Linked DNA regions of Homo sapiens. The protein of the gene in region 3 interacts with the protein of the main gene of each other region in a pairwise test. Each region holds a gene or a part of one and is shown on either strand. Other genes may lie near its edges.

Region 1 (7,223 bases), about 69 Mb from region 3:
CTATACAAAAATTGACGTGACTGTAAAGTTATTTCACTTTGAATACAAATAATTACCTAGAAGTAAGCACCATTTATGCAAACGCCTACCTCGGCATAGTTACATTACCTTTTTAACTCTTGTAGCCAGGTCCTGAACAAAGAGTTTGCGCAGGTTGTGTAAAGTCTGAAGTTCTTTTGCCTTGGATTAAGAACAGCGATATTTTTGGAGCTCAGACTTTAAATTTAGAATAATCATGGTAGAAAAAACCCACAAAATATTTCCCAATCCTGTTTATTTTCATGTTTTTCTTACCACTGTCTCTTCCAAACCCTTCAAGTCTTGTCTTGCTTGTTCTCGTCTATCTTGCATAACCCTAACAGTAGAAGAACAAACATATATTTTCAAATTTTATTCTGTATATTGTACTTAGCATGAGAGTTGAATAAAATATTTTGTGTCTGAAAGGATAAATTCTTAAATTTAAATAAATACAAGATGCCTATTTTAAACAATTTACCTGTGCTGTCTTTCAAAAAAAAAATTTTTTTTTTTTTGACACAGAGTTTCTGTCCCAAACACTGCTCACTGCAACCTCAACCTCCTGGGCTCAAGTGATCCTCCTCACCTCGTCTCCCAAATAGCTGGGACTACAGGCATGTACAATCAGCCCTGTCTAAAAAAATTTTTGTAGAGACGGGGTCTCACTATATTGCCTAGGCTGATTCTCAAACACTGGGCTCAACTGATTCTCCTGCCCTGGCCTCCCAAAGTGCTGAGATTATGGGTGTGAGCCACTGCAGCTTTGCAATTTCAAAAAATTTTCATATGCCTTCTAAACAACAGTCTATTGTTATACATTCCATATATAGCAATGGAAGAGATGAAATAAAATGTGGCAGAATTCAAAGAATAAGGAATAGTTCTATAATTTATATTTTAAAATATGCCACATGTATTATACTGCTATTTATCCAAAATGATACTGATTAATTATAGATTATAAACTGTCAAAGACTAAAATATTTTACATTACAAGTATTCTAAACAAAATTACAGCTGCAAGTTAGCAGAATCTTCATATAATCCACTCTGAACTGGTCCTGATGTTCTAACTATCCTAACAATATCAGTTGATTTGCAAATTGTCTCACAAACTCAAGGTATGTGAAAAATTATAATCATGCACTTTCTACCTGCTAAGATTCTAGAAAACTGAGTTTTGAGAAAATGAGAAAAGGTAAACCATGAAAACCTCTGTTCAAAATGGCAAGGCTAAACACCACAATGCTCTTTTATGCAAGAGAAAATTTAACAAAAACTCAGTTTTTGTGTTAGATCTTAAAATCTTCGAAGTTACTTAATATATTGTTTTAGGTTCATTTTTATGCTGGATCCTGAAGTAATATGGAGATAAAGAAACAGCAAGCAGATTAATAAAGAGAAACCTTAATCTTAACCACAATGAAATATAAGACCTTGCTTTCACTCAAATGCAAGTATATATTCCAAGTATTTAGATATAAATCAAACCAACTCAGTGGATTTAAGAAAAAATCCTTTAGCCCATACAAAGTAAAATATGTATCCACTGGCTATATCCAAAGGTAATGCCTATAATCCTCTAATTTAGCTTTTATTTTTAAACTTTAATTAAAAACAATTACTCACGTAAGTTCATGTAGTTTTCTGCTCTTTTCCTGATCTGTGGCTTTCAACTTCTCATGTTCTACTCTTAGACGTTCCTGCTCTAACATCATTTTCTGGTTTTGGCTGACGAAAGAAAAAAATAATTAACACAGTATCAATATCACAGTTTTCTCAATGTCATCATTAAAATTTCCAAACTTTTAAATTCTATAATCTCATCAAGGACTTTTCTGTTATCCTATACCCTATGGAGGAAAAGAGGAAAGGGACCTGGCTACTTGTGGACATACAAAATTTTTCGTATTTTGGTTTGAAATCATGATTCTGTTCTCCTCTGTCTTTCATCTTCCTGAATCCTTATGCCTACTTCCATCAGGTATTCATAGTAAGACCTACGCCCCAAACCTCATCATTATTTTGTTATGTTATTCTCTTCTTGGTTCCTACTCAAATTGTTGCAAACTCTGACTTCCATAAACTCTATGTATGTGCACATGGTTATGGAGGCAGGGAAATTGCTTCTAGATAAACTAAGATGACAACTTAAAAAAAAAAAAACCTTTGAAAATCCATAGAATTTCCAGAAAAGTTTTTCCCAGTTAAGAATTTTGAGTCAGGGTCTCGCTCTGTCACCCAGGCTGTAGTACAATCATAGCTCACTTCAGCCTCAGATTCCAATACTCAAGCAATCCTCGTGCCACAGCCTCCTGGGTCACTGGGACTACAGGCATGTGCCACCAAGCTCAGCTAATTTAAAAAATTATTTTTTGTAGAGATGGAGTCTCACTATGTTGCCCAGCTGGTCTTGAACTCCTGACTTCTAGTGATCCTCCCACCCCAGCCTCCCAAAGCACTGGGGTCACAGGCCATCAGCCACTGCACCCAGCCAAGAATTTTTTTAAAAAAGGAAACTAAATAAAGGATTTGGAGAAGACTGTGGTATGCAATAATAGACTTAGGTTGGGGATTTTTTTCTTTTACTGAATAATTTAGATCAAAAGACCTAAAAAAAAGCCTCAAAAATTTCACCTGGAATTTAGAAGTTTTACTCATAAATGAGAAAATTCTTTATTTTCCAAGATAAAAATGTAATTTTGATGAAAACTGCAGGTTTCTAATAAGAATATATACCATGACCATCAGTAACCGATTCTTTCCTCCTAACTAGAGAAGTATAATACTTACTCTTGAAGATCAGTAATAAGTTTTGCTTTTGCTTCTACTTCATCTCTCAAACTACTGATCTGTTTTTGATGAGTTTCTCTATGGCTCTGGATCTGCTGTTCAACAGCTTGCTAAAATTTTGGGGGGGAAAAGGATGTTAAAGTCAGACTAATCAAAATTAATACTGATTAATTAAAGCTGTTAGAAATGTGACATCAAACTTGCCTTAACTTCATTTGCAGTCTGAACCTTATTTAAGTGCTCCTTTTCCATTTCATGGACTTTCTCTGTTTGAATAGAGAGAAAATAGAAGAGTGAAATAAGCCTTTAAGGTTCCTCATATAAACCAAGGAGCAAATGGATTTTACAATAAGCATTTTCCTTAGCAATATTCAACTTCAAATTACCCAAATGTCACCTGCTCTCCAAGTTCAATGACATGTAGACTAGTATACAAGTTACATCCATTGTGTTGGTATTATGTATTCCTTTATGGTTTGTTTGGTTTTTTTTTTTTTGGCCTAATCCAGAACAGATTAGTTAAGGGAATGGTAAAGAAATGAGATAACTCCTAAGTCCCCTATGTTAAGACACACACACACACACACCCCGCTTCGTAACTGTGGGAAATCCCCAGATTGGCTATTTCCATATTCAAACAAAATCTTAAAAATATATATATATATGTTTTGACAGGCACAGTGGCTCATGCCTGTAATCCCAGCACTTTGGGAGGCCAAGGCAGGCAGATCACGAGGTCAGGAGATCAAGACCATCCTGCGTAACACGGTGAAGCCCTGTCTCTACAAAAAAGGTAAAAAATTAGCCAGGCGTGGGGGCATGTGCCTGTGGTCCTAGCTACTAGGGAGGCTGCAGCAGGAGAATCACTGGAACCCAGGAGGTGGAGGTTGCAGTGAGTCAAGATAGTGCCACTGCACTCCAGCCTGGGCAACAGAGTGAAGACGCCGTCTCAAAACAACAACAAAAAAATGTTTCAAAGCAACATTAATATGTATGATTTGTTTACCATTCGAAATCAGCCATATTCCTACTATTTCTTTCAGTGTGAATATTAAGTTTACTACAATTATACTAAAATAAGAACACAGATGTAACTCATAAACAGTTGGAAGCTATACCTTGTGCTCGAAGCTGGACTAGTTCTTCACTGAGGGCATCGACAGATTCCTCCAACTGTCTTTTCTTTTGTTCCACATTTTGAAGGTATTCAGTCAATGACTTGATTTTGGCTTCATGCTTTTGGAAAAAATATACTGATATGAAGTGGAAAACATATGCATACACTTTAAGAATATTTGACAGTAAACATTTCATTATCTATATATGATAAATTTGGGAATATTTAAAACTAAAATATTCAGGAGCCAATTTTGAAATGTTAAAGAATGTAATCAATTAATTCATTGGTGATCATAACTTGCAAACTAAGGCACTGAAGACTCAAATATGAAATACTAATTTTACAGATACCACCATCTAACGTTACCATCTTCCCTCCTTGTGAAATTCTGATAGTGGTGAATGGCCCCATTCATTCAGTTGCCAAGCCAGGAAACTGGTTCCCTGCAGTTTTGCCCACCCTGGAATTCTGAAGTCTTTAACAAGTTACCACCAGTCACATCATTCTGGTAAATTTCTATACATAACCCATATTTATGTTAGGCAAATATAACTCAGTTAAATCATTCAAATTTACTGCAGCTAGACTAGGAAAAAAACAACTAAATTTCACCTATAGACACACATTTTTCTGAAAACTTGTATAATAAATAAAATTTCTATGTGGCTGTTTCAAAAAAATGAATAAACTTTGTTCTATAACATACTTGAGAGATACGAAGCTGACATGCTGCTAACTCCTTTTCATTTTCTTCCATTTTTTTGTTGCTCTCAGTTTGTGTGCTTTCTAACTGCTTGCAACGTTTCACCATGGTTTTTACTTCTGACTTCATTTTGCTAATGTAGAGTCTTGCAACAGTGAACTCTTCATCTATCATGCCAGTTCCCTCAGGCTGCTGTAAGGAAAAAGTAAAATAAAAAATTAAAGCCAAAAATGTTCAATGTGTGTTTTCCCAATTAGGCTATAAAATCTTTTTATAAAATATATTTTAGTATTACTCAATATTCATACAAAGTCTGGATCTTATTTTTTTCTTTTATTACTGTTTTCAACGAAAGGTAAATAAATACAGCTTACTTTTTGCCTTCCTTTTTTTAAAAACTGAGAATAATGTTAATACATGCCAACAAGAAAAATAAATAAATGTAAACCTAAAGAAAACACAAAAATACAACCAAACTAATAAATTCTGCCTCTTTCAATTTTTTCACTTCCTCTTTACAGGACCTCTTCAGTAAATTCATTGTTAATCATGTGCACGTTCAGCTTAAAATTTAACAAGAGGATGTTTAGGTGGCAGGGAAAGGATGAACTTTAAGCTCAACCAGAAGGAATTGTGGTCACTGTATATTCCTTCACCTTCAGGAAGAAATAAAACTGTGCAGATGACATGATTAAGTTTACATGTAAAGTCAAAAGACCCTGAATAGCTAGCACAACACTAAGGACAAACAAAGTCACAGGACTTGACACTATGCAACTTACTGTAAAGCTATAATAATCAAAACAGTACAGTGCTGGCAAAGAACAGATAAACAGGTTAACAGAACAGAATAAAGAGCCCAGGAATAAAACCACAAAATACAGTCAACTGATCTCTGACAAAGGTGCAAAGGCAATTTAATGGAGGGAGGACAGTCTCTTCAACTGGACATCCAGATGTGAAACAATGAATCCTGGTACACACCTTACCCCTTTCAGAAAAATTAACTCCAAATGGATCATAGATCTAAATGTAAATGCAAAACTGAAAAAAAAACTTTTAACACAGGAGAAAATCTAGGTGATATTGGGTTTGGTGACAAGTTTTTAAATACAATACCAAAAACACAATCTATTAATGTAAAACTTGGTAAGTTGGACCTCATTAAAATTAAAAATTTTTAGTCTCAAAAAATGACGTTGAGAGTAAAAAAAAAAAACAAAAAAAAAAAAACAAGACACAGAGAAATAATGCAAAACACTATCTGATAAAAGACTTATATCCAAAACATATGAAGAACTCTTTTTTTTTTTTTTTTTTTTTTTTTTGAGACGGAGTCTCGCTCTGTCGCCCAGGCTGGAGTGCAGTGGCGGGATCTCGGCTCACTGCAAGCTCCGCCTCCCGGGTTCACGCCATTCTCCTGCCTCAGCCTCCCAAGTAGCTGGGACTACAGGCGCCCGCCACTACGCCCGGCTAATTTTTTGTATTTTTAGTAGAGACGGGGTTTCACCGTTTTAGCCAGGATGGTCTTGATCTCCTGACCTCGTGATCCGCCCGCCTCGGCCTCCCAAAGTGCTGGGATTACAGGCGTGAGCCACCGCGCCCGGCCGAAGAACTCTTAAAACTCAACAATAGGAGGCCAGGTACGGTGGCTCACGCCTGTAATCCCAGCAATTTGGGAGGCTGACGCGGGCAGATCACCTGAGGTCAGGAGTTCAAGACCAGCCTGGCCAATATGGCGAAACCCAGTTGCTACTAAAAATACAAAAAATTAGCCAGGTGTGGTAGTGGGAGCCTGTAGTCCCAGCTACTCGGGAGGCTGAGGCAGAAGAATTGCTTGAACCCAGGAAGAGGAGCTTGCAGTGAGCCGAGATCATGCCACTGCACTCCAACCTAGGCGACAGAGCGAGACTCCATCTCAAAATAAAACAAAACAAAACTCAACAACAGGGCCAGGCGCAGTGGCTCATGCCTGTAGTACCAGCACTTTGGGAGGCTGAGGCAGGCGGACCACCTGTAGTCAGGAGTTCGAAACCAGCCTGGACAATATGGTGAAATCCCATCTCTACTAAAAATATAAAAATTAACCAGGCGTGGTGGTACGCGCCTGTGTTCCCAGCTATTTGGCAGGCTGAGGCAGAAGAATCACTTGAACCCAGGAGGCGGAGGTTATGGTGGGCCAAAATCACGCCACTGCACTCCAGCCTGGGTGACAGAGCGAGACTCCGTCTCAAAGAAAAAGAAAACCTCAACAATAAGAAAAAACACAACTGCAAATTAAAATGACAATAAAATAACACCATACATTAGTAAAATCCCAAGAAACTGACAAGAGCAAACACTGGCAATGATGTGGAACAGCAGACTCTCATTCATGGCTGATAGGAATGCAAAATGTTTCCACCACTTTGGAAGACCATTTGGGAGTTCCTTACAAAGCTAACATAGTCATAACGTACAACCTAGCACTTCTAGGTATTTTTACTCAACTGAACTGAAAATTTATGTCCAAAGAATAACTTACACATGAATTATTATTATTTTTTTTGGAGACAGAGTCTCACTCTGTCACCTAGGAAGGAGTGC
Region 2 (7,223 bases), on a different chromosome or scaffold from region 3:
CCTTCTTTTCCTTTATTATAAAATTATCACTGTAAAAAGCATTTTAAATATATAGTACAGTATTAAGTAAAAAGGAAATCTCACACCCTCTACCCCCATTCCACTCCCTAGAAGTATCTTCTGTTTCTGGTGTTTTCCTTCAGATAAAAGCTAAGGTCTGAAGTGAAAAAACTAGGGCTACCAACCTTAGGACCTTGAAAGTGCCCAGAAAATTCCTGTCATCTTCACATTAAATCTGCTTTTCCTTTTGCAGATTTAATGTGAAAATTCAGGAGGCCGGGCACAGTGGCTCATGTCTGTAATCCCAGCACTGTAGGAGGCCAAGGCGGGTGGATCACCTGAGGTCAGGAGTTTGAGACCAGCCTGGCCAACATGGTGAAACCCCCGTCTCCACTAAAAAATACAAAAATTAGCTGGGTATGGTGGTAGGCACCTGTAATCCCAGCTACTTGGGAGGCTGAGGCAGGAGAATCGCTTGAACCCAGAAGGCAGAGGTTACAGTGAGCCAACATAGTGCCACTGCACTCCAGCCTGGGCAACAAGAGTGAGACTCCATCTCAAAAAAAAAAAAGAAAAAAAAAAAGAAAAGAAAAAATTCAGGATATCCTTTATCCAGGTGCTTGGATAAAAGTTTATTGAGTTCAGGCCGGGCGTGGTGGCTCACGCCTGTAATCCCAGCACTTTGGGAGGCCGAGGCAGGTGGATCACGAGGTCAGGAGATCGAGACCATCCTGGCTAACACAGTGAAACCCCATCTCTACTAAAAATGTAAAAAATTAGCCAGGTGTGGTGGCAGGCGCCTGTAGTCCCAGCTACTCGGGAGGCTGAGGCAGGAGAATGGTGAGAACCTGGGAGGCGGAGGTTGCAGTGAGCCAAGATTGTACCACTGCACTCCAGCCTGGGCGACAGAGCAAGACTCCGTCTCAAAAAAAAAAAAAAAAAAAAAAAAGTTTGTTGAGTGCCTACTGTATTTCACTGTGCCAAGCAATTAACCATCACAGCAGCTCTGTAAGATGCATAGCGTTCCCATTCTGCAAAGGACAAATTTGGGCTCACTCCCTGACGTTAAGCAACTTGCAAAACCAGAATCAGAACTCACACCTGCCAAAACAGAAAGTCTGATTCTTTTCACTGTGGCAAGATATCTCAACATTCAAGATTTTCAAAGAAATTTTATTCATACTTTTGAATTTCTATTTTACTTAATTATTCGTACTATGAGAATATAGAGCCACATGACTTTTCTTAATAATAATGGGTACTAACTAGTTCAACTCTTTACATTTCTTAATTTTAAATTTTGCTAGGCTGGGTGCAGTGGCTCACGCCTATAATCCCAGCACTTTGCGGGGGCCGAGGCGGGTGGATCACTTGAGGTCAGGAGTTGGAGACCAGCCTGGCCAACATGGTCAAACCCCATCTCTACTAAAAATACAAAAATTAGCCAGGCATGGCAGTGGGCACCTGTAATCCCAGCTACTCGGGAGGGTGAGGAAGGAGAATCGTTTGAACCCGGGAGGCAGAGGTTGTGGTGAGCCCAGATCGCACCACTGCACTCCAGCCTGGGCAACAGAGCGAGACTCCGTCTCCAAAAAAAAAAAAAATTTTTTTTGCTAAATTTTCAGCTACATGGTAGGGTAAAAAGCTTTCGGCAGCCACATTAGGAATGAATACTCCCCATTTGCAACAGTGTTACAATACAGAAAAGCACTCAGCTTCAACCACTTTTAATAAATACACTTTTAAATGCAACCCACTTCTTATGGTGGAGCCTGTCCAAGGCCGTTGCACTAAATTAATATCCGAAAAAAGAATGGAGGTTTATTCTTAAAATAGTGTATGTCACCATTTTAAGAGTTAAGAATAAATCTCACCCCATACTTCCCCTTGGTAATTATAAATAAATGAATGGATCAGCTCCTAGTGCCACCGTGCCATTACGCAGCTACATGCTATGGTCCTTTAGTCACACTGGGTCTCATGAGATAACTAGACTTCTCATCTGTACAAAGAGAGCTTGGGTCACCATCCTAAAAATGATCCCCCTCAAAATTTAAGTGATGCTCCTCATTTTGAGAATTCTAGAAGTGCTGGGCATGATATTCTTCCTAGTCACCTCACCTACCCATTTTGTTTTCTTGCTTCTTAAATGTCTTAACTTCTATTTTCATGATCCCAGGGTGCCAGCCTGGACATATCCCAACATTCATGGAATTCTGAAATCACTTACAGGGAGAGGAGATCTGAAGAGCCCATCCCAGAAAATGCTCTATGCCAACAGTAAAGACATATGCACAAAAAAGACTTTGTTCCCAAGAACTAATTTCTTTCCAAGATACCTTTTCAATTCCTCTAAATTACAGAAAGTGACATACTTCTACTTAGTGCTAAGCTCGACTTATCACCGTGGAGTTGCTGACAGTCTCCAACCAGCCAGCGTTCCTACCTTCCCTTCTACAAGAGGGGTGTGCCCTATTCCTTGAGCTAGGGTACGGGCACTCAGCAGCAGAAAGGTGGCCCATGACAGACTTGAAAGCGCACACCAGGAATTGTCTGAAACTCAGAGAATGCTGGAATTAACTTTCTTCCTGTGACCTTTAACCTAGCTGAATTTTCTTCCATTTCCAGTACTAATCGTACTTTCTTCTCACTTGCAGAATTCCCTGTTCTGTCCTGCCTGACACGTTCTCTTCTTGGTTCTTTTCACCTGAACCTTATTCTGATCTGTTACTTCCTCCTGTCCAAGACCTAAGCACTGAACATACCTCACATATTTAAATGTTACCTCCTTCAACTGAGTGAAACGGTATTCATTGCTCCTATACAACTGCTCTTTAGCCGGCCGGGCGCAGTGGCTCACGCCTGTAATCCCAGCACTGTGGGAGGCCAAGGCGGGCGGATCACGAGGTCAGGAGATCAAGACTATCCTGGCTAACACGGTGAAACCCCGTCTCTACTAAAAATACAAAAAATTAGCCAGGCGTGGTGGTGGGCGCCTGTAGTCCCAGCTACTCGGGAGGCTGAGCCAGGAGAATGGCGTTAACCTGGGAGGCGGAGCTTGCAGTGAGCCGAGATAGCGTCATTGCACTCTGGCCCGGGCGACAGAGCGAGACTCCGTTTCAAAAAAAAACAAAAAAACAAAAAAAACCCCGCTCCTTAGCCTAAACAAATGTAAAACTCAATAAGAACAGGCAAAAGGATAAAAATAAGCTTCAATTTAAGCATAAATAATAATTTAAGATGTATCCTTGATCTATTGTGCAGCCCTTAGCAAAAAGCCTTGAATCGTTAGGTGATATCTCATTAGAACAGCGGCTTAATTTCAATATTGAAGCTGCTCTCCAAACAATGAAGAAAAGCAGAAATCTCTACATTTTCTATTTCTCAACCACTCCCAGTGCTCATTTATAGGAATTACCCCTAAATTTTCCCAGTTAACCTTTCAGGGAAACACAAACCCACAGCCACAGAAAACTTTCGTCTCTCTACACTTATACTCTCTTACTTATACTCACTGCCTCTACACAGTCATATTCACTCTCTACACACTCCTCTCTTTTCCCAAGAAAGAGCTCTGTTACAGGCAGAGGAGAAAATGGAGTGCCCTAGGATACACAATGGGGCCACTGTACTAAAAGGTGGAGCTTTTAGTAGAAGTAGAGGTATTATAAATAGAACTGAAGAGGGGAAGCTTTTCTCCCTCCAATCTCTATGATCTTTATTCCTGGCCTTAGAGTTACTGTAAATCCCAGATATTGGGGCTCCTCCAACTTGGGAGGGGTGGAGGTTATGGAGGAAACAGGATGGAACCAAACCAAAAAGGCAAACTGGGTCTAGCGCTAGAGGGGAAAGAGGGGCCCTCGGAACACACAAGATACAGGCCGGTTCACCAAGGTAGGAGAAAGAACTGGAAGAGGTTAATAGCTCACTAATAACGAAGAGCATGCCATTTGTCCTTGGTGCACTCACAACACTTTTTAGGGGTGGCAGCAGCCACATAGGTGGCTGACAGGGATTCTAGTCCTCTTTTCTCACCATAACATTCCCAGGCTTCTTTCCTTTGTCCTCTCTAGTTTACAATCTAAATAGGTGCTTCCAACCTTGATTTTTTAAAATCAAAGCCTTAAACAACAACAAAAATCACCACACCCAGTTTTATGATTGCCTCCATAAAATAGACCAGGCACCTTTCCATGATGCCAGGCCAATGGGCAGGGTGTGCTAGGGTAATATGCCACTATTATGCCCTCCCTTAAAAAAAAAAAAAAAAACCTGAAGATCATCACAAATGTCTCCACTGCCTTTTTTTTTTTTTTTTTTTTTTGAGACAGAGTTTTACTCTTGATGCCCAGGCTGGAGTGCAATGGCACTGTCTCAGCTTACCGCAAGCTCTGCCTCCCGGGTTCAAGCAATTCTCCTGCCTCAGCCTCCCGAGTAGCTGGGATTACAGGCACCCGCCACCACGCCCGACTAATTTTGTATTTTTAGTAGAGACGGGGGTTTCTCCATGTTGGTCAGGCTGGTCTCGAACTCCCGACCGCCAGGTGATCCGCCCACCTCAGCTTTCCAAAGTGCTGGGATTACAGGCGTGAGCCACCGGGCCAGGTCAGTTACTCCTTAAGTATGCAAAAGCACTCAACAAAAAAACACCTCAGGGGATCATGCCTGCTGGGTGGTCTTTAAAGGAAATGGGCTACTTTCCTATACTGGAAAAAAACACCTGACAGAAAAAAAGACGCTCTAGAGTAGCTGAAAATAAAATGCCTGGCTAATGCAGAACCTGATGAAGAAATAGGATGAAGTGTAACATTCTACTGAGGTCATGATATCCCAGCATAAGGCAGAGTTTTAAATCTTGTTTCTCAACAGGGGGAGGAGTGGGGGCCAAGGAAGGAGCATCGGAATCACTAGAGACATTTAAAATACAGTCGGCCCTCCTTATCCATGGGTTCTGCATCCATGGATTCAACAAACTATGGATCAAAAACAGTCAGAAAAAAATAAAGAAAGATATAAATAAAACAATACAGTGTAACAACTATTTATGTAGCATTTACATTGGATCAGGTATGATAAGTAATCTAGAGATATATCTAGAGTAATCTAGAGGTATGATAAGTAATCTAGAGATGTTTTCAAGTATATATTATGCAATGTGCTAAGGTTATATGCAAATACTATGCCATTTTATATAAGGAAGTTGAGCAACTGTGGATTCTGATATCTGCAGGTGTCCTGGAACCAAACCCCCACAGATACCAAGGGACTACTATGTGTCTGGATCTCCCACCCCGACCTACTGAACCACAATCTCTATGGTAGGGCCCAGATAGGTGTATTTTTTTTTTTTTTTAAGTTCCCCAGGTGATTCTAATGCACACACCTGGTTAACAACCATAGTTAAAAAAATGATGAGGCCAGGCACAGCAGCTCACGTTTGTAATTCCAGCACTTTGGGAGGCTGAGACGGGCGGATCACCTGAGGTCAGGAGTTTGAGACCAGCCTGGCCATTATGGTGAAACCCAGTCTCTACTAAAGATACAAAAATTAGCCAGGCGTAGTGGCGGATGCCTGTAATTCCAGCTACTCAGGAGGCTGAGGCAGGAGAATCGCTTGAACCCGGGAGGTGGAGGTTGCAATGAGCCAAGATTGCGCCACTGCCCTCCAGCCTGGGCAACAGAGCGAGACTGTACAAAAAAAAAAAAAAAAAGATAGAAACATTCTTCAATCAAGAAAACTACAAGTAGACCAAAAAACTCAGGCTTCAGTTTCTTCATTAAATGAGATGGTTGAACTAGATTAGCAGTTGAACTAGTTATTGGTAGTGTTTGGGGGAGGGGAGGTGTTAGCCAAAACACCCTCTGTAACAAGTGAATTTTATTCAAGAAATTCAACAGTAAAACAAAAGCAGAGCTACTTTGGATGGGGGAAGGAAGGTGTGTTGAAGCTCTTCCCTCTCACCCCCAGGTCACCTCAGTGGAATCACCAAAGCTCCACAGAGCACAAGATGGTCTCTCAGAACAGCTGCAGCTTCCAAATTCTTTGACCTTCCAAACCTTGAAATCCACAATTTAAATGGCAGAGATCTTACAGTTTTTGTTTTCTTATAAACTTCATATGAGAAAATGCCCCCTTTTCTAGTGATATAGCATGCCTTGCTATGTCATCTTCTATTATTTAGAAAGACAAGTGTTATCCTCCTCACTTAAGTCATCACTGAAACCCAAGCTCCAGTTTCCTGGAAGTTTTAAGCTCAGAAAAGAAGCCTAGACACAAGAGGGCATGCAAAATACAGGTTAGTGTTTGCCCCAGGAGAAGGAAGAATGGGACCAGAGGGGCACAAAAAAGACTTTAAATGTAGCGATGTTGGTTTTGTTTTGTTTTGTTTTTAGAGGAAAGGGAAATATCTCAAATGTTAACATTTGTTAGTTCTGGAATACAATGATGTTTGTTGTACTGTTCTCTGGACTTTCTTGTAGCATTTTAAGATTTTCAGAATTAAAATACACACATACACACACACTTGTTTATTAGCACCACTTCAAACACCCTTTTTATTAAACGTTAATTACAAATATTTCATTATCCCTCACTTGACTTTTCCACCAAAGCTCACTTATAGAATACATGATCTATAATTACATCTACCCTGGGACTCTGCAAAAGAACACAAGCACCAGAACAAAAGAAATGAATCACTGATAACAAAATGACACTCTAAAATTAAGACCACAAGGTTGTGGGGCATCTGAAAAAGGAAAAGAGCAGCTTTACATTCACTTCACAAAGAATGCAGAGGATGCTGACTCTGAATATTGCCAAACAGATGGACCTACACCAACAGCACCACGCTTCTAAGCCTCCCAAACCAAGCAGCCACTCCGCAGGTCATAGGAGGAGGAGACTCAATTCATATATAAATCAAAATTCATGAAGCATAAGTGAAACATTAAAGCCAATAACTTCAAATCCTAAAAATGCTATTTCCACCCCACAGTTGGTAACGCCCAAAACATGCACAATAAGCATAAGACTGAACAATAGAAACCTGGAAAACCGTTCAGTACACTTAAATGCCCATCACAGTGATTCATGATAAACTCTCATCAAGGCTACTTATTGCCATAAATAAATACCCTACCTATACTTATTCCCTCAACCACCAGCTTCCCAGTTACATCTATAACATACTCAAATAAATCTTTTCTTTTTTTTCCCCCCA
Region 3 (7,504 bases):
TGGGTTCTGTTTTCGATAGTTGGTTGGTTGGATTTCCCCCTGCATTGTCCCTAAGAGCCGGACTCCAACAGTCAGTCCGAGGAAATGCGGGAGGGAGGGAGGAATCTTAAAAACAGCATTAGTGGGCATTAGGAGGCAGAAATGGCATCGAAAACAGACTTTTCTCTCAGAGGGTGGGGAGGAAAGATCGATTTTGAAACTTGCAAGTCAGGACCTGACTGCCCACCTCTTCCCCTCCCACATGAGGAAAAAAGGCCCGAGGAAATAGAAGTCAACTGCAATAAGGCCGAGGGAGGCGAGGAAGGAGCGGGCCGGTGCATTCGCCACATGCAGAGAAAAATCAAAACAGCCGGAGCTGCCACTCCCCTAGACCGCAGGGTTAGTGTTCCCCGCCCTGGTTTCTGTCTCGCCCTCAGCAAACCCGGCAGCCCGAGAGCTTTGAAAACATCGAAATCTCCGAGATTTAAAAAATAATAATAAAAGAAAGGAAAAATCAGGCTGCGGTGGGAAGAACCCGCTATATAGGTTTAAATATTTATATAGAAGCCATACAGAATTGCACGGCGAGGGCTTCCGGGGCGGCGGAGGCCGCTGGTGGCGGCCGGCCCGGCCGGCCAGCCTGGGTTTATTGCTTCGAGAGGGAAGAGGCGGCTGCCAGGAGCCGAGTCCGGGGCCGGGGACAGGGGAGGAGGCGGGAGTTGGCAGAGGAGGTCCCAGCTCCCCTCGGCGGTCCGGTCCGGGAGGCGTTGGGCTTTCGAGCGCTAGGAGCCCAGGGCGGCGGAAGACCCGGGGCGCCGCTCAATCGTCCACGTCGATCTCTTCGTCTTCCTCGTCCTCCGAGCAGTCCTGGCTGCTGGCCGGCTGGTCCGTGAGCGGAGAGGCAGGCGAGAGCTGCAGGGCGCCAGCGCCCGGGGCCTTCGGGGCGCCTGGGGGGAGGACCGGAGAGCCGGGCCTCGACTTGGCCCTGCCGCAGCCGCCGCCACCGCCGGCTGTGGCCTCCGAGTTCTGCTCGAGTTCGGCCAGCGCCACGATGTCCATCTGCCCGCTGGGGCCCAGTTTCTTGGCGGACTCTACGTCGGCCTTCATCTCCTCCAGGTCCCGCTTGAGCTTAGCGCGCCGATTCTGGAACCAGGTGATGACTTGCGCGTTGGTGAGGCCCAGCTGCTGCGCGATTTGGTCGCGATCGGCGGGGGACAGGTACTTCTGGTATAGAAAGCGCTTTTCCAATTCATAGATCTGGTGGTTGGTGAAGGCCGTGCGCGACTTTCGCCGCTTCTTAGGGGTCTGCCGCTGCCCAAAGATGGTCATACCGTCGCGGCCTGGGAGGAAAGGACAGTGTAGGCTCGCGTTGGGAGAGAGGAAGCCCACCCTGGCTCTCGCCCCCGTAACTCCGTAACCCACCCAGGCCTGTCCGGCCTGCAGTCTACCAATGTTCCCTTCTCAGATTTAATTCAGCCTCCAGGACCAGGGCAAGTCTTGGCTATGGCAAACCATCTCCTGTCTTTGGTCTCCCAGAAGTCCCTAGGAAAAATTGTTTTGGTCTCTGCCCCCTACCTAAGAGTTGGTTTGAAAGACCCAAAGTCTCTAAGGGTATGAGAAAGCCAGACAGAGACACCCTAATTGCGGTGTGAATGTTGGTTCTCCATCCCTTCCCAATCACTTCAACTCTACCCTACCCATAAGGTCCCCGGCAAAAGACTCTCGATTCCCCACGCCGAGTAGCCGGGCTAAGAGCGCCCAGGACACTGGGAACGCAAGGGAGCCCGGCAAAGCAAGCAGACTGCGGAAAGAGCTTGGCCACCCTTCTCCTGCCACCCCCCAGCTCTGGCCTACCCAGAGGTCCCTGGGAAATAAGGATTGGGTCCCGTCCCACATATCTTCACTCCCATAAGCAGCTGCTCAGGCTGGAAGGCCCTGGCGGCCGGAGAGGGCAGAGGCGAGCAGAGGCATAGGGGACGAAGCGCGCAGGGCACAGGGCGCGAGGCGCTGGGTGCAGGGGAACCCAGCAGCTGCGCCTACCTTCGGCTGCCTGCAGAACGCTGACCTCCAGCCCCTTAAACGTCTTGCTGGCGAGCTCCTCCAGCGCGCACAGCGGCGAGGTCTGCGAGAGCAGCGCGCGGCCCGCCAGGGGCAAGCCGCCCTGCGCGTGCTTGTCCGCGGCGGCCAGCAGGTGCGCCGCCCCGCACAGCGAGTAACTTCTCCGCACAGACGGCTTGTTGAGGATGTCCTCGATGCTGAACGGCGTCAGTGGCTTGTTGGAGTTGGCAGGCGGAGGCAGGTGGTCCAGCGGGCTGCGCCGCCGCTCCTCCCCCGGCGCCGCCTTGCCGTCCTCCTTGGAAGTCATCTCGGCCTTGTTCGGGGTCCCGGCCGGGGCGGCTCGGGCCGCGGGGACCCAGCCCGCGGGCAGCTCGGGCGCCGGACGGCGCGGGCAGGCAGCGGCGGGTGGAAAGGAGGCCGCACTGGGCAGGGCGCGGGCCGGGCGCGGGGCCGATTAGCGCGGCGGCTGAGGAGGGGAGAACAGCGCGGGGCCCCGGGAAGAGGGCGCTGACGCGGGCGCCGCTGCTGCTGGGGCTTCCAGCAATCCGGGGCCGGAGCCGGGGCGCGCTGCGCGGGGCTCCAGTTTCGCCAACCCCGGTGCTATTTAAAGGTGTCAGGTGGCTCGGCAGTGGCTCCTGGCCCCGGGTCCTGGCGGCCGCAGTTGGAAGAGCCGAGGCGAGGGCGCCGATCCCGGACTGCGAGGGAGGCGGAGAGACGGGGCAATTGACTATTGCTAACAAGTTAGCCTTGATCGCGGTGTAATCAATTATCTGCAGCGGCACTTCTTTCTCTTTCTCTCTCCTTTCTCCCTTTTTCCTCTCTTCTTTGCCTCTGTTCTCTCCTCCTGTTCTCGCTCTCCCTCCCTCCCTCTCTCTTCTCTCTTCTCTGCTCCCCCCTTCTCTCTCCTTCTCTCCCTCTCCCTCGCCCTCTCTTTCACTCTCTGTCTGTCCAATGCAGGCGGCTGTAAGTTGGGAAGCTCATTAATTAGCGGGCCGGGGGTAGGAGGAGCCGGCTGGAATTAGCCTGCCTAATGCGCCTGTCAGTCCGGGCGCTGCGCTGCGTTCGGCCCGAGCTGTTTGTAAATTACATTAGCTGCTCCTTTATTGCACCCGAACCTCGGGCGACTGAAAAGCCACCGCCCCCACCCCAAACTGCGAGCCGCGCTCCTGGCGCACCCGCCTCCCGCCGGCCTAGCTGCAATGACCGCACCGGCCCGAAGGTCTCGGTCTCTCCGACCCGGGATGTGGAGCCCGAAAGAGTGGTGGGAACCCCAGCCCGGGAGGGACGCGGCCGCCGCTCGGGCCAGGTAGGACCAGGAGCCCGGGTGGGCCCCGCTGCCACCCAGAGTGGACTTTGCGGAGCTGAGATCAAGAGCCCAGCGCCTCTACCTCTGACCCTCTTGCCCCTCACCCCACTGCCTGGGCGACGCGCCTGGGGAGAGGGAATCTGAAGCCCTCCTGCGCTGGCCCGCAGGAGGTCAGAGCCGGCTGCGCAGCCTTGGGTGGGCGACGCGGGAAGGGGGTGGAGGACCCCAGGGGTTGGGGGAGGGGGCTAGTCGGAGAGCTCAGCCTTCTCCACGCGGAGAGGCGGAGGAGGGAATTGTTGGCGGCTCTGGACGCCTCTCCCCGGCCTGATTCCGAAGCGGCCGCCCTACCTCCTCCGGCAATCTTGCTCACTTTCCTCCGGCAGCCGCTCCCCAGGCTGGCTGGGGCCACCAACGGCCTGATGATGGGCGTCTGAAGAGTAGCCAGGCCAGGTGCCGGGGCTAACGGGGCCGGCTCCGTGCCTCCCTGCTGCGCTCCGCCCGGGCCCCGGCCGGGGCCCCGCTGCCGGCCCCGCCTAGCCCAGCGCCCGGCTTGAGTGCATGGCCAGGCCGACTCCAGCTGTTCCGGATGCGGGGCGGGGGCCCGGCGGGAGCCAGGCCGCGGCTGGGGCTTTGCTCTCAGGAACTCGCAGGGAGGCCAGGCTTCCAGTTAGGCTGGGGCTAAAGACCTTAGGGCCCGGGATCTGTGAATATCGGGAGAACATGTTGTGTGCATTGTTACTTGAAGGTGTTTGTGTTTTTGAATGTGTGTTTGTGTGTGTTTCTCCATGCGTATATTTGTGTAAATGTGTGTGAACCTGTGGGTATATAGGTGTGTTTGAACTCAGCTATTTCTTTCATTTCCCTGAGGCATTCCAGCAGGGCTGTGCCCTCAGGCCTTCCTGTCTTGCTACCCCATTCTGTTTATGTGGGGCCACTGGCCTCCTTACTAATTTTCCATTTCTGCCCTTGGAGAAAGGAGGGGAGGACCTAGAGGGGGTTGGAGTCCAGGGAGAAGGGCTGTTCCCCTCCCACACACACACAGCCCTGGCCCTGGCTTTGTTTGTAAACTCCTGGGTGGGCGGTGAGGTTGGGCATTGGGCAGCACCGCTTGGACCAGAAAAGGGCCCAGAGAGGCCAAAGTGAGGATTTGTGGCCCAGGCCAAGGGTTGGAATGGGAAGATTAGGATTTCTTGCCCCCTCTCCCCTCATATCTAACCCCAGAGAGGGAGTGAGCTAAGCTGGGCTCCGGGGCGGGAAGCAGGTTCTTTCTCTGGATGCCTCAGCGTAGGGGGCCTCTGCACAGCAGAGATAGGTTTCATGATCTCACCTTCAGTTGTTTGTTTGGAATTGTGGCTGGCAGCTCTCTGGGGTAAAAAGGACAGTGTAGGGAGAAAGGGTTCTTGTTTGGTGCCCCAGTTCTGTGAATGTTGGGAAGAACCCCTACCCTCTAACTCATCTTTGTCCTGCATTTTCGGGGTGGCAGTAAGCGAGTGGGGGGAAGACAAATGCTCAGAGGCAGGATTGGTGAGAATGGGAATCACAGTTCCCTCAGAGCTGCAGACCCACTCCAGGGCAGACCTGTCTCTACTCTTCTGCGCTGCCCTGGGAGCCACGAGGTGCTGCTGGGCCTAGCAACAGAGGAGTCAGAGCCTAGAGACCAGCAGAGGCGGACCGGTGGGAGAGGGCGTTGGGGAGCTGAATCTGGGTGGCTTGGAAGCTCTGGGGCCAAGAGGGGTCAGTCCTCTCACTTCCTGCCCTCAGGATCCCATTTCAGCCTTTTCCTGCCATAACCCCAACCCCCTGACCCAGAGCCTCAGGCAAGTGAGGCTAGCAGGGAGGCAGGGAGGCCCCTCTAGATCCAGGAACAAGGACCCTTGGATCCCAATAGAGAGAAAGAGAGAGAGAGAGAGAGAGAGAGTTCCTCCCATACTTCCACACCCTTCCTGTCCTCTTCAGTCTTTGCATCGCATCTGGTACTAGCCCACAGGATAGGACTTTAAGGACAAGCCAATCCCCTGCTGTTGCCCATCTCCCAGATCCTCAAGACCAGCGGAGTTCAGGGTTACTGGGAAGCTGACAGGAAGGGGAACATGAACTGGGGAGCAGAGGGGTCCCTCTGCTTGGCGTGTTCTTAATGTCTTATCCTGCTGGCTAGTACTGAGATCTTTAGTCTTCAGCCACACCATGTCAAAAGGAACACGACGTCTCACAATCATCTGCTGAGTTACCTCCACCACCAACACCAAACCTCTTCTTCCCTGGCTGACCTGTACCTGCTGTCCAATCCTATGGCTTGGCTCTTTTGACCTAATTGGTTGGCCTCTTGGTTAAACACACTTGGGCACACCATATGGCTGGGGTGTGGAGTGCAGTGTGAGGTGCAGGGATGTGGGGAAGTCTGTGGTATCACCCTGTGTTTTGTTGTTTTGATTCACCCAGATCCCCTTATCCAGGCCACCTTTGGAAACCAGCCCACCTGCTACACCAACCTTTTCCCAACACCGTGGTCCCACCCCTACCTTCGCTGCTGAAAAACCGCATTGTGTGGGGGTCTGGAATCTTCTGGACTCCTGGGACCCCAATCCGCTTGCCTCTTGTACCCCTCTTGCAGAGCAATGAGGTATGTTTTGGGTTTGTGTACTGACCCCTACCTGCCTCCTCTGCCAGACCTGAGGGCAGGAGCCTTCCTCTGGGTATTCCAGTTCATCTCGGACCTTCGAAGTCCTAGGAGACACCGGGCTCCCGCTGAATATCGGTTGAATGACTTTCCATAGAGCAAATGGGGTATACATGATTGTGCAATGTGGAGGGGAATGGTTTGGGCCCCTCAGAGGAGTTTAGAGATTAGGAGGATTCCAGAAATGAGTAACACAGGGTCAGTGGGGGTAGAGCCAGCCCTGACATTCTGGGCTCCAATCTTTCTGCCCAATCCCCTACTGAGCCCCCATGCTGGGGCAAGGCAGACACTCTGGGGGTCTCCCCACCCCCAGTCAGCTGGGCCAGCATCTTCTCACCTGGAGCTGAAAGCAGCTGATTCCCAGAGTCTGCTCCACAGAGGGAATACCTGTCTTCAGAGCATAATCTATATGCTACCATGATCCTCAATTCCTGTTTGCTGCTTAAACAGCCAGGGTCCAGGTTTATTCTTTCTCAGTGGATAGGGAAGGGATCATTCTGCCAAAAATCTGCTTTCCCTCAGTTTAGGGAATATTCCAGACAAAGAAGAGGGAAACAGCATTTCATGAATTGCCACAATAAGGGGACCCTGCAGACCCAAACAAAACAGGTTAAACCTTAACACAGGAGAAGAATTCGCTTAAACCCCCAAAGACTCCATTGGATTCACTCTGGATTGTTTTGGTACCCCCATTCATTTCCAGATTATTTGTATAAGCACCAGCATTGACTCTCAGGCCAGAGTTCCTTTAGAGAAAAGGGTCTGACACTGCTTGAAACAAGTTAACTTGGCCAGCAGTGCGGATCATTTTACTGTTGTTGTTGTTGTCCCATGAAGACCTGCTACTCTGACACTCTGTGTGGAATTCAGAGTGTTTCTTCTCCTATGGAAGTGGACTATGATAAACGGCCTCCTGCCACCCAGGCTAAGTCAGGACTGCCCACTTGGTTTTTACATTTTGCCCTGGGCCACTGTCTGCAGTAACAGCAACAATAACCATGACAATAAATACCATAAGCCCTTACCTTGTGCCTGGCTCCAGGCTAAGAGTTTTATTCATTTCATTTATTACTCACAATCTTTCTAGGTAGCTATGCTCTTACCCCGATTTTACATAACAGGAAAATGAGGCCCAGAGAAGTTAAGTAACCCATCCAAAGTCACACAGCCTGTTTTGGAGTGATCAGGATTGGAACACTGTCCTTTTGTTTTGTTTTGTTTCTTATTCAAGTCTGTCCCCTTAATTCCTGAACCAGGGGGTTCTTAACCAGAGGTCCCCCAAGGGCTCTTTGAATGGGCTTCAGGGGCTCTGTAAATCTCAGAAATTTATATGTGTACCCAGGTGGGCACATTTTTCTGGGAGCAATATTATATAACACCCAGGATTCTCAAAGCGGGTGGGGATCCAGAAAAGGTAAAGGCTGGAATCAGGCCACTGTAGGGAAGGGAGGCAAGCCACTGGGGAAGGGGGATGGAAGCGGCCT

The links. The genes of interacting proteins can lie anywhere in the genome.
Region 1: the proteins of LBX1 (region 3) and KIF5B interact in binary tests that used the Homo sapiens proteins (3 or more experiments, as listed by UniProt).
Region 2: the proteins of LBX1 (region 3) and IQGAP1 interact in binary tests that used the Homo sapiens proteins (3 or more experiments, as listed by UniProt).

What each region holds. Positions count from the first base shown.
Region 1 is NC_000010.11:32,018,208-32,025,430, forward strand, and holds part of KIF5B (kinesin-1 heavy chain), read right to left. Parts: intron 4,830-7,223; coding exon 4,641-4,829; intron 4,051-4,640; coding exon 3,933-4,050; intron 3,081-3,932; coding exon 3,019-3,080; intron 2,925-3,018; coding exon 2,815-2,924; intron 2,193-2,814; exon of another isoform or gene 1,753-2,192; coding exon 1,651-1,752; exon of another isoform or gene 356-1,650; coding exon 295-355; exon of another isoform or gene 181-294; coding exon 109-180; exon of another isoform or gene 1-108. UniProt on the Homo sapiens protein: Microtubule-dependent motor required for normal distribution of mitochondria and lysosomes. Can induce formation of neurite-like membrane protrusions in non-neuronal cells in a ZFYVE27-dependent manner.
Region 2 is NC_000015.10:90,391,237-90,398,459, reverse strand, and holds part of IQGAP1 (ras GTPase-activating-like protein IQGAP1), read right to left. Parts: intron 1-7,223. UniProt on the Homo sapiens protein: Plays a crucial role in regulating the dynamics and assembly of the actin cytoskeleton.
Region 3 is NC_000010.11:101,226,472-101,233,975, forward strand, and holds LBX1 (transcription factor LBX1), read right to left. Parts: upstream 2,993-7,504; 5' UTR 2,345-2,992; coding exon 2,020-2,344; intron 1,320-2,019; coding exon 799-1,319; 3' UTR 523-798; downstream 1-522. UniProt on the Homo sapiens protein: Transcription factor required for the development of GABAergic interneurons in the dorsal horn of the spinal cord and migration and further development of hypaxial muscle precursor cells for limb muscles, diaphragm and hypoglossal cord.